2 separate regions of the Homo sapiens genome follow, and region 2 is linked to region 1. Evidence: fine-mapped expression QTL. Tissue or cell type: whole blood. Region 1 holds a variant in brackets; the other region holds the start of a gene. All regions are shown on one strand. Distances are between the middles of the regions.

What was found. PIP is the estimated chance that this variant, and not a neighbour inherited with it, causes the effect.
Region 2: CYSTM1 starts here. The variant in region 1 is fine-mapped to the expression of CYSTM1 in whole blood (TOPMed, PIP above 0.99).

What each region holds. Positions count from the first base shown.
Region 1 is chr5:140,241,601-140,246,746 of GRCh38, forward strand. It overlaps CYSTM1 (cysteine rich transmembrane module containing 1), which reads left to right. Exons shown (of 3, transcript NM_032412.4): 3 at 1,705-2,189. The coding sequence ends at 1,811. It overlaps PFDN1 (prefoldin subunit 1), which reads right to left. Exons shown (of 4, transcript NM_002622.5): 4 at 3,435-4,457. The coding sequence ends at 4,374. Among named protein-coding and RNA genes, the nearest start is that of PFDN1, 59 kb to the right of the region's middle. RefSeq lists enhancers at 1-141, 142-978. The variant A/G (reference allele first, on the strand shown) is at 2,169.
Region 2 is chr5:140,172,998-140,178,143 of GRCh38, forward strand. It overlaps CYSTM1 (cysteine rich transmembrane module containing 1), which reads left to right and starts at 2,191. Exons shown (of 3, transcript NM_032412.4): 1 at 2,191-2,288. RefSeq lists an enhancer at 1,769-1,998 and a silencer at 2,289-2,578.

The DNA of each region.
Region 1 (5,146 bases):
GACAGGGAGAGCACAGGGAAGGGGTTATTCAAGGGGATCTGCATGCCATTGTATTCTGGTTTCCCTGTCCAGAGCTGCCCATGCAGGATCCCGGGGTGGGCAGGCCATCCAGGCAGATGGAAGGGACACTCTGCCTGGGGCTTTCCTGCTGCAGTGACCCCAGGGCCTGGGGTGGCCAGGCTTCAGTGGGTAGGGTAGGCTCTGGCTGGATGTGAGAGATGACTTTGCTGTAGCCCCAGTCACCTCTGTTCTCTTTCTGATCCCTTTTCTATCCCAGTTGGGTATGAGCAAGCCTGGCTTGCCAGAGGCTTTAGAGCCATAAAGGCCTGGGTTCGGATTCTGCCCTTGCCTCTGCCTCGTCACATGTGCTTGAACGAGAGACTTGAGCTCTCTAAGCCTCGAATTCCTTGCCTGTGAAGTGGGAATGATGGTAGTATCTACCTCAGGGTTGCTGTGAAGACGAAATCAGGTACTTGACCTTAGGAGGCCTCAGAATAAATGAGCCATTCATCCTCTCCCTCTGAGCAGGCTTTCCTGGTGAAGGGCATCTAGACCCAGACCTGTGCTGCTGAGTGGAGCCAAATGCAAGTGGACTAGGATTAAACCTGTGCCATAGGAGAAGGAAAAGGAACATGTCCGTGCAGTAGAGGGCAGCTGATACAACGGGAGGACCTGGAAAATCTCCCTACTAACCCACTCAGCGTGCCCTGTAATAGCAATGACACCAGGCTCCAGAGAGAGGCGCTGCCGAGAGAGGTCTAAAAACAGATACAAAACACAAGAAAACTGAAAGAAAACCCCTAAAGGACTGGCTTAATTGATAACATTCATGCATTCATGAACTTTGGAAAAGTGAAATGCTTACTGCTTATGAGTTTGATGACAGTGGTTGTTTTGAGATTTTCAGTGGCCACAGATTGACTAGCAGCCATTTAAAATATGTCCTTATGGGAAGAGAAGCTAATGCCGCAAATCAGCTAACAAGTAGTGGGTAGTTGGGGTCCTTCTTGACCTATGGATTTGTTTAGCACTCAGATCTCTCGATAGAGCACTTGGCCATGACAGGGCTCAGGTTTCCAGCTCCATTTGGAGGAAAAGTGAGCATGCTAGGCTCAGGAAGACACCACACAGGCTCCAGCCGCCCCATCCCACTCAGCCAGGTTTTCATCCCTGCCTTCCTTCATCGTTTATGTCAAGGTATAGAGGTTGGGGGCACATTCTGAAATTGTGTATTGCCCAGGAATGAAAAACCAGGGCTCTTGATTATTCTTTAAGGGTTTAAAGCCCCCCTTTAAAAGGAGATTTTAATTCCCTTTCCTCTGTTATTCTTGGGTGATGGGTCAGCTGTATCCCAAGAAATGACCCCCAGTTCCCCTCCAGGGGGGAAGACATGCTACCTGGTTTACAAACCAAGTAGGGTTGGCCAACTCTGGTTGCCTTGGCATGGGGCCATTCTGCAAGTTCTCTAGTACTTGTCCCTGTGAGGGTGAGGGCGTCCTGAGTCTGGAGTGGCAGGAGGGAGAAAGCAGCTGAGCTGAGCCACCCTCCTTCCATTCAGCAGCAGCAATGGCAGGAACACGGTTTCACCAGTCTGCTCAATAGTTTTCCCCTGGTGTAGCCTTCCTGTGGTCCTGGGAGGCTAACTTTGCAGGGCCTGGGGTTTGCACCAGTCCATTCTCACCCTCTTCCCTCTTCTCCCTCCAGTGTATGTGGTAGAAGACCAAAGAAGAGATGAGCTAGGACCATCCACCTGCCTCACAGCCTGCTGGACGGCTCTCTGTTGCTGCTGTCTCTGGGACATGCTCACCTGACCAGACCAGCCCAGCCGTCCTGTCCTGCCAGCTCTGCTGCCACCTCTGACAGGTGTGCCTGCCCCCATCTCTTCTGATTGCTGTTAACAAATGACTAGCTTTGCACAGACACCTCTACCTTCAGCACTATGGGATTCTAGATTAATGGGGGTTGCTACTGTTTAATTCAGTGACTTGATCTTTTTAATGTCCAAAATCCATTTCTTATTGATCTTTAAAGATGTGCTAAATGACTTTTTTGGCCAAAGGCTTAGTTGTGAAAAATATAATTTTTAAATTATACATTCAAGGTAGTGGCCAAATGTAACACATCAATCATGGAATGATTTCTCTGCTAACAGCCGCCTGTATGTTTCA[A/G]TAAATTTGTCCAAAGCTCAACTGTCTGTCTAAATGATTCCAGGCCTAAGCTAAGCTACCTGGAGTCTGTGCTTGTCTCCTGGACTGTTACCATGTCTAACTAACTACTCATCTGCTCACTGAGGCTTATAAAATGTGGGTATCTATCTCAGCTAGTGGCCACCATCCAATGTATGACCAGCAGCCAATCTACCTTTTTATTCTGGTGGTGATGCAAACAGTGAGGGTGCTACAAAGGCGGCCAGTTCTGAGGGCCAGGTGTTCTCCAGCTGGGTCATGGGCTCCCGGCCAAGCTACTCTCCCCGTAGTCCCACTCAGAGATAGGCTCAGGGAGGAGCATTTGCCACATCTTGCACCTGCCTTTACCCAGAGCCTAGGAAAGGGCCTTTTGGTAACCAGGGGCTGCCCCTGGAGTGGCTTCCAGGCCTGCTCCCTGGAAACCCAGGAACCTACAATTACATGGGGCCAGCCAAGAGGTTTTCCTTTTTTTTTTTTTTTTTTTTTTTTTTGAGATGATGGAGTTTCACTCTTGTTGCCCAGGCTGGAGGACAATGGCGTGATCTCGGCTCACCACAACCTCCCCCTCCTGGGTTCAAGCAATTCTCCTGCCTCAGCCTCCTGAGTAGCTGGGATTACAGGCATGTACCACCAGGCCGGGCTAATTTTGTATTTTTAGTAGAGACAGGGTTTCTCCATGTTGGTCAGTCTGGTTGCGAACTCCCAACCTCAGTTGATCTGCCCGCCTCGGCCTCCCAAAATGCTGGGATTACAGGCGTGAGCCACCGCTCCTGGCTGAAGTTTTCCCTTCTGGATGTCCCCTCACCCCTCACCCCAGCTCGTCAGCCGTGCCACTCATCTCATATTTGGCCACAGGGTGGCGCCAGGCTGCCATAGCAGCAAGTCCGATTTTCCTCCATCAGCTGGCCCGCCCAGCCCAGCCAGCCCGAGAAGCCGCAGCTGACAGCTAGCTCCCTGCCGACTCTGCCTTCCCTCCGAAGCAGTGGACGTGCTGATAAATGTTTACCGGTGCTCTCTTTAAAAAAAAAAAAAAAGCCATGTTTTGTTGCATGTCCTGTGTCTTATTTCTGATGTCCTGTGTCTTATTTCTGTGGTGTACGTGTTCTCACCATGCCATGGCTGATTTCAAGTTACCAATGTGATGTCACTGACTGGAGCTGGGAAGGGCAGCACAGGACCTGACATCATGTGGGATTTCTACCACCCAGACACAACAGAGCCAACCTCACAGATCACAGTCAGTGCACAGATAGAGCACAGATCGTGGTCAAATGTAGTAATTAGGGATGCATTTTGAATATTTATTGTCCTTGTTTTTAACATAATTTGCAAATTTACATAATTATAATGGCTGTGTTTGACAACTGGCTTGCAACAAAATTCTTGAAAATTGAATAATTGGCCCACCTGGGCTGGGATGAGCCAGCTGGATCACACCGTTGCCCCCTCAGCCTCTAGGAGGCCTCAGGATTATGGCGTCCATCTTATGATATTGGCCAAAAGGAGACAGTCTTGGAGGTGCTGCTTACTGTTGAACTTCCTTTTGGAATGTATGGGAGAAGGCAGGGAAAGGAATCTTTAGGCAGACTGCCATCCAGGGACTGCTATTCTGTTCACTGAGATTCAGCTGTGAACATCTGTTCTTTCTTCCTCTTCTGTCTACTGCATGCAGGCCCGGAAGCTGAGCGTTAGTCAAAGGTACAGGAAGGGAAAAGAGAAGAGGGCAAGGCCCATCCCCCAAGAAAGGAAGGGCTCTGATGCAGAGGGAGCAGGAGCTGAGGTGGAGACGGCCACTGCCTCTCTCACCCTCTGTTCCATCCCTCTGCTCAAGAAAACCAGGCTTAGCAGAGTGGGACAGACGCTTTTTATTGGTCTGGCTGGCGTGCCTAGTGGAAAGCTCAGGCAGAGCTTCCTATCTTGCCCTGGCTCCCATCTTCCCTCTCCTGGGAGTTCATCACACATCCCGAGAGGGAAGAGTGTCCTGGGCAGAGGTGGCAGGCAAAGCCGGGTAAAAACTCCAGGGCTGGGAAGCAAATGGGGCTCAGGGTGATGCAGAAAATGTGATGTTGCCAGGCCATCCAAATAAAGCATCCATCGGGGCAGAGGAGAAGCTGTTTCCCTGCAGACACTCCTCTGCCCCCACCAGGAATGGGAGGGGCAGGAGGAAGAGCTTCCCAGAGAGGCTCCCTACTGGGCCCTTCGTGCCATCAGCATCTCCCGGATGTTGTCCTCAGCTTCCTTAACGCTTCGCTCCAGGTAGGACTTTTTCTGCTGCAATATGAGAGACAGACAAAGGTTAGGACCAGAGTGAATGGGCCGGGCTGGAAGACACAGCTTTGATGTCCAATGGTTATGGCTTTTCCTTTGTGACAGGCAACTTTCAGGAGTATACTGCAAGCCAGGTACACACACCTGCCCACAGTGCTCCCCTCACCTCCGAACCATGGGTGATCACGGGCAGGCAGCAGGGAGAAGATGGCTTTGGTAGAAGCAAAAGTGCTCTGTGGAGGACAGGCAGTAGCACTCTTCCCCCAGAAGGAAGAAGACTCTAAAAAACAGGCGTCTCAGTACATGAAGTTATCCCAGACAGACAAAGGCCAGGAAATTCCAGGACAAAGCTCCTGTCCGTAACAGACTATCTCCTCTCAAGGTTTTCCATGGCCTGGGCCAGGCGTCTGTAGCCACTGCAGCTATAAAATGGATGGTGCACGCTCTGCCCTGTCCAGCAGGAATATGGGCTGCTGTGAGGGCTGTGGGGCTGTCTCGCATCGCACTGAGTGGGTGAGTCAGAAGGCAATCTGCTTTTCTAATGAGACTGCTGCCTGCCAGGAATCTGGGACACTAAAACACTGAGGAAAGCAGACCTTTTGGAGGCTTACCTTCTACTCCATCTGGGTCCTAAATTAAAAATCTCGGCTTAGACAAAGAACTTTCACTACTTTCAGGAGCCAAGATTTCAA
Region 2 (5,146 bases), 69 kb before region 1:
TGGTTACGCCCTCACCCTACCAACTCAGTAAAAGGGGAGTGGTCAGGGAGCGTACTGAGAATGTGTCCTAGCATCTTTTCTTCCCTAGCACAGCCTTCATATGACCCAGCTGCCATGAGAAGCTTGCCTCCCTTCTAAGGGAATTACCCCTGCCTTCCACTCCATCCTCACCTTGCCCTGCCCAGATTAGAGGCACGGAGGCATGTACCACAGGCCTGAAAAACTGTCCAGCCAAAAAGCCTGACTGCCTTGAGTACTATCAGGGTGTAGTTATGGACGTGCCTGTTTCTGCTCTTCCCTCTGCATTAGTGCTCTGCAAAGGGTGGCTCTTACCCTCAGATGGTCCAGAGGTAGTTTGGGGTGTGCATGGATCACCTTCACTCTTCAGAGGCAAACAGACAATGCTGCTCTTCTCCAACAGCCTCTGAAGGACACCACCTACTGACTGGTTCTGAGATGTTTGCTGCCCCAGAGTCTCCCACCTGCTTCTTCCTCCCCCTCAGTCCTTTTTTGTAGCCTCTCAGCCTCCCTTCTCTTAATGCTCTTAGCACCCTTTCCTGGGTCTCTATTTACCCTGCCCTCCCTTTCAGCAACTCCTTCCCAAACCACTGCATACTTCTCCTTTCTTTCCAATCCCTCCTCCCTTCCCAGCACTTTCGCCCTCCATTGAATCCCTCAAGCCTCATTCTGGCCCCACTCCTCCCCTCACCCTCTATCCCTGCCCTCCTCAGATCTGCCAAACACCTCAGGCCTGGCTGCCTCTGTCCTGTTCCTACCAACCTTCTGACCATGCCTCTGTGCTCCTTGGGACCTGGGCTCACATTTTCAATCTCTTCTCTCCTATTAGTACAGCTCTGTCTAGAGCCATGGTTCTTCTCTACCTTTCACAGCTGTCTTCTTTCCCACTTATATGAGTTTCTTTAAGTGTGAAAATTAAAAAGTGCCACTTAAATACAATGATTAAGTCATAATAAACAGTACAAGTTGTACTTATGTGAGACATACCACCCATACACGTTTGATCTTCGAGAACCACATCTCAATCTGCCCATGGCCCATTGCCTGACACTAAAAGATGCTCACAAGAAGTTGACTATAAACTAACTTCTTGGTCTAAGATCCTAAACTCTTGAGAGGGAAGGTTTCAATACATATGAAACCTTCTTGGCAGTGCAGGGATGAGGAGAGTAAAACTGAAATGAAAGTCAGCAAATAGTGAAGGTGTGAAATAGGCAGTGACTCTCACACTGAGACCTCCAGGGGATGTTAAATTTTCATTTCGAAGCTGATAGTCTTATCTGGGAAGCCTAGAGAGTAACAAAAGTTGTAGGCATATACTTATATTAGAGTGGTGCAAAAGTAATTGCTGTTTTTGCCATTTAAAAAAAAAATGCAAAAACCACAATTACTTTTGCACCAACCTAATAGCAAGCAAGGGGAGGAATATGGAGAGAAAATCAATTTCTAAAATGAAAAATAAAAAATTTTTTGCAAGTAGGACTTGCAAGCTCATTCTAGGCCTTGCTCTGGGAGCTTTTCGGTAACTTCTCTTCCTGTTGGAACAGAAGAAGGAAACCTTCAGGACAGAAGATTCTGTCCCCCTTCCCCCTCCTGATGTGAATGAAGTCTCATTACACTCTAAAGTACTGGCGGGACTACTTGTTGCAAGGTTTATGGGGAAAAGTAGCCAGAGAGCAATCCAGTTATCAGCCTCAGCCCCATTCCGCTCAGGTACAGCTCGGGAAGTAAGCCCCCAACCCTAGTTGGGTCTGGACCAACAAGACACGAGGAGGCAGCAGCCCACAGCCGACCCCTCATGCCACGCACTGAGCAGGGTTCCGCATGGACGCTGGTCTTGCCTCCCAGGCGCCTGAACTAGCGGAGTTGGGGTATCGGGTGGAGTCTCGGAGAACCAATCCAATCTGAGGGGGACGCCTGTGGGAGTCCTAAGTATCCAGCGCAGCTGGGAGGCCCACGTTGGGAAGTCGGAGACCGACCCCGCCTCCCGACTGCGCCGACTGCAAGAGAGCGCTTCCGGCGGCGCTTGGAGGCCGAGCAGTTGGGGGCGGGGCTCGTGCTGTGACGCAAGCCTCGCCTCGCCCCGCGCCGCGCGCGTTGCCAGGGTGATCAGGTGACTCCCGGTTCGCGGCGCTGGGAGCGGCCGTGACGTCAGGCGCCCGGCTGCTCCTCACTTGCTCTGAGACAGGTGCGGCAAGTCTACTGCGGGCTGGTCCGGGCTCCTCAGGTTCAGACCCGACCGTTATCCAGTCGGTTCGTGGAGAGGAGAGGTGAGGTGCAGCGGACCTGGCCCGACCCAGCTGGGACCAGGGCGGGGATCAGGCACGGACAGGGCGCGTCCCCGGGCTCCCTGGGGAGCGCCCTGAGAACTGGGGGGCACCCGGGCTGGCCTGGCTCAGGCAGGGGTTCGCGCAGCCCCTGGGGAGGGGCAGGGAGGCAGGGAAGCTGCTGCCGCCAGCTGGATCCCTCCCGGCGCCCCGCGGCTACTCTGGGGCTCCTGGTCGCCGCGCCGCGCGTCTCGGCGGTGGACTCACAGGGTCTCCGCGTCGCTGCGGTTCTCGTCTCACGAGGAGTCGGCGGGCTCGGAGCGGGGCTCGCCACACCCCGTCCCGGGGGACGTCCGCGGGAGGCTTCTGGATTTCTTCGCCTTGGGCTGCGATTTCTGAGGCGCTGCTCTGCCTATTCCGAGCTGGGCCAGCCGGGGGCAGGGGGCAGGTCGCGAGTCCCGCGGGTGGGAGCGGAGCGGAAGTAACTAGTGACTGGAAGTAACTAGGGAACGCAAAGCCGGCGCTCGGAGGCCGGGGTGTTCAGAGAAGGCGTTGCGGGGGAAAGGAATCCCGGCTGCTGTTGAGAGCCGTGGATTGGGATCTGAGCGGACCTGTTGGAGGAAGTGAAATCTGAGCGGGGTCCTGACGGGTGGGAACTAATCTCCCGGTAGCAGTGGAGGTTGCAGGGGGGAGAGAAGGAGGGGAGGACCCCTGGGGAAGGAGACCATGAGGAAAAACGATTTGGGGACTGACTGGACCGTCTGCTGGGCTGTTTTGGGGGAAAAAAAGTTTGGAGAATTAGGTTAGGGAGGATTAGGAAAGGACCCTTGAGTGCCCACCTGAGAGGCACTGTGTGCTGTGGGGAGCCATTGAAACGTTGGCTAGATTGGGGTAGGGGGAACACTGAGGAAGTTGGTGTGAGGGGAACACTGAGGAAGTTGGTGTGACATTCCGGCAAAAAGGTGACAACACTCTTCTCTGATGGGATTCCTCAAACCCTGCTTATGAAATACTTGTAACCGACAAGGGTAGGGGCTCAGGCAGCCAGGTGCCTTTTTCAGCCATTGTTGGCAAATTTTTAGAAATTAAACAAAAAATAATTGTACATATTTATAGATTTATACAATATGATACATGTAAACTTTGTGGAGTAACCATGTTAGCAGATTTTTAAAAATTCCTTTTTATGAAAGGACCCACCCAAGGGCAGCTCATTTTCGAGTATCTCATTTGACGGGATTTAATGACTGGTTGGGAGCTATGCCCCCCTCAGTATGCAGGGAGATTATAGCGTCCACAACACTTTGCCCTTCAGAGGTTTCAGAGTGACTTACAAACACCTTGTATCCCTAGGGTGAAACCCAAACCCCAAATGACTGGTAAGAGATTTAATAGGGGGAAGTTATTAAAGGAGAACCAGCATCCAAACATTCATGTGGGGCATTGGATTCGCTGAAAGGAGTCCCATACTATTTGTTGATTGTAGATCAAAGATCTCTAGACCTGGCCTGGTGCGGTGGCTCACACCTGTAATCCCAGCACTTTGGGAGGCCGAGGCGGACGGATCACGAGGTCAGGAGATCGAGACCATCCTGACTAACACGGTGAAACCCCGTCTCTACTAAAAATATAAAAAATAAGCCGGGCGTGGTGGCGGGCGCCTGTAATCCCAGCTACACGGGAGGCTGAGGCAGGAGAATGGCGTGAACCCGGGAGGTGGAGCTTGCAGTGAGCCGAGGCTGCGCCACTGCACTCCAGCCTGGGCGACAGAGCGAGACTCTGTCTCAAAAAAAAAAAAAAAAAAATCTCTAGTCCTTTCCTGCCAGCTTTGAGTTTCTCCGTGTAAGGCTGCGTAAGTGTTAGTTGGCTATTTTGTCTTAATTTCCTGAGCAACAGGAAAAATATATTTTGGTTATATGAAGAGGAATGCTTTGGTAATTTATGATTTTTCCCAGCCCTGAAATTTATTGGTGCTAGGACCAAAAATACACAGCTGTCTATTTTATTTTATTTATTTGTTTATTTTTGAGGCGGAGTCTTGCTCTGTCGCCCAGGCTGGAGTGCAGTGTCGAGATCTTGGCTCATTGCAACCTTTGCCTCCTGGGTTCAAGAGCTGTCTATTTTATATTGAAACTTACCAAAGTCTGTTTTCTGGGAGGTAGTGAAATTATTTTGTATTTCTTTGACTCCAGAAAACAGAATTGGACCTCCAGGGATCCTGTACAGTGAAAGGCAGGTTTGGGAATTGCGAAGGAAGGTGGCCGCAGCTGGTTTGTGCGTAAATATAGAAACCGGTGCAGCACTCAAAGGAGTGCAAATCCAGGGTGAGACCTGGGGAAACGGGACTTCCAGTCAGATCAGTGAAGTCATTCTCTGTAAAAGAAGCCCCGAAGTGTGTAAAAGGCCAGAGTAGTTTTTTCCCCGTGTGTTCCTGTTGAGTGGTAGAGATTATGATAGTGATTTTTAAGGGGCTTTGCAGGAGCTTGTTAATATTAAGAATCGCTGGAAATCAGATGTCTTGGCCTCATTAAAAAATTTAGAAAAGTAACTGTTTTCCAAATCTCTTTGATACTATTTGAAGTGGCCAACTAATTATGGTTCCTTTGGAAAGAAACAGTCCACCCCCTCCTTTCCCAAACAAAATAACTATGTGCTGTCAGGGCAGTTAAGTAGGCCAAAAGTTTTTGGAAATTTTCTGCTTTCATTCACCCAAGCCACCCCCACAAGTTTTCTCATTGGTAGAGAACTTAAGACTTTACTGTCAGGAAAAAAATGTTAGTGTGTTTCCCTAAATACAAACTATAATAAACAACAGGGCTGGCCTTTAATAGAAATGCTCTTTCTTAAGGGGGACTGGGCTG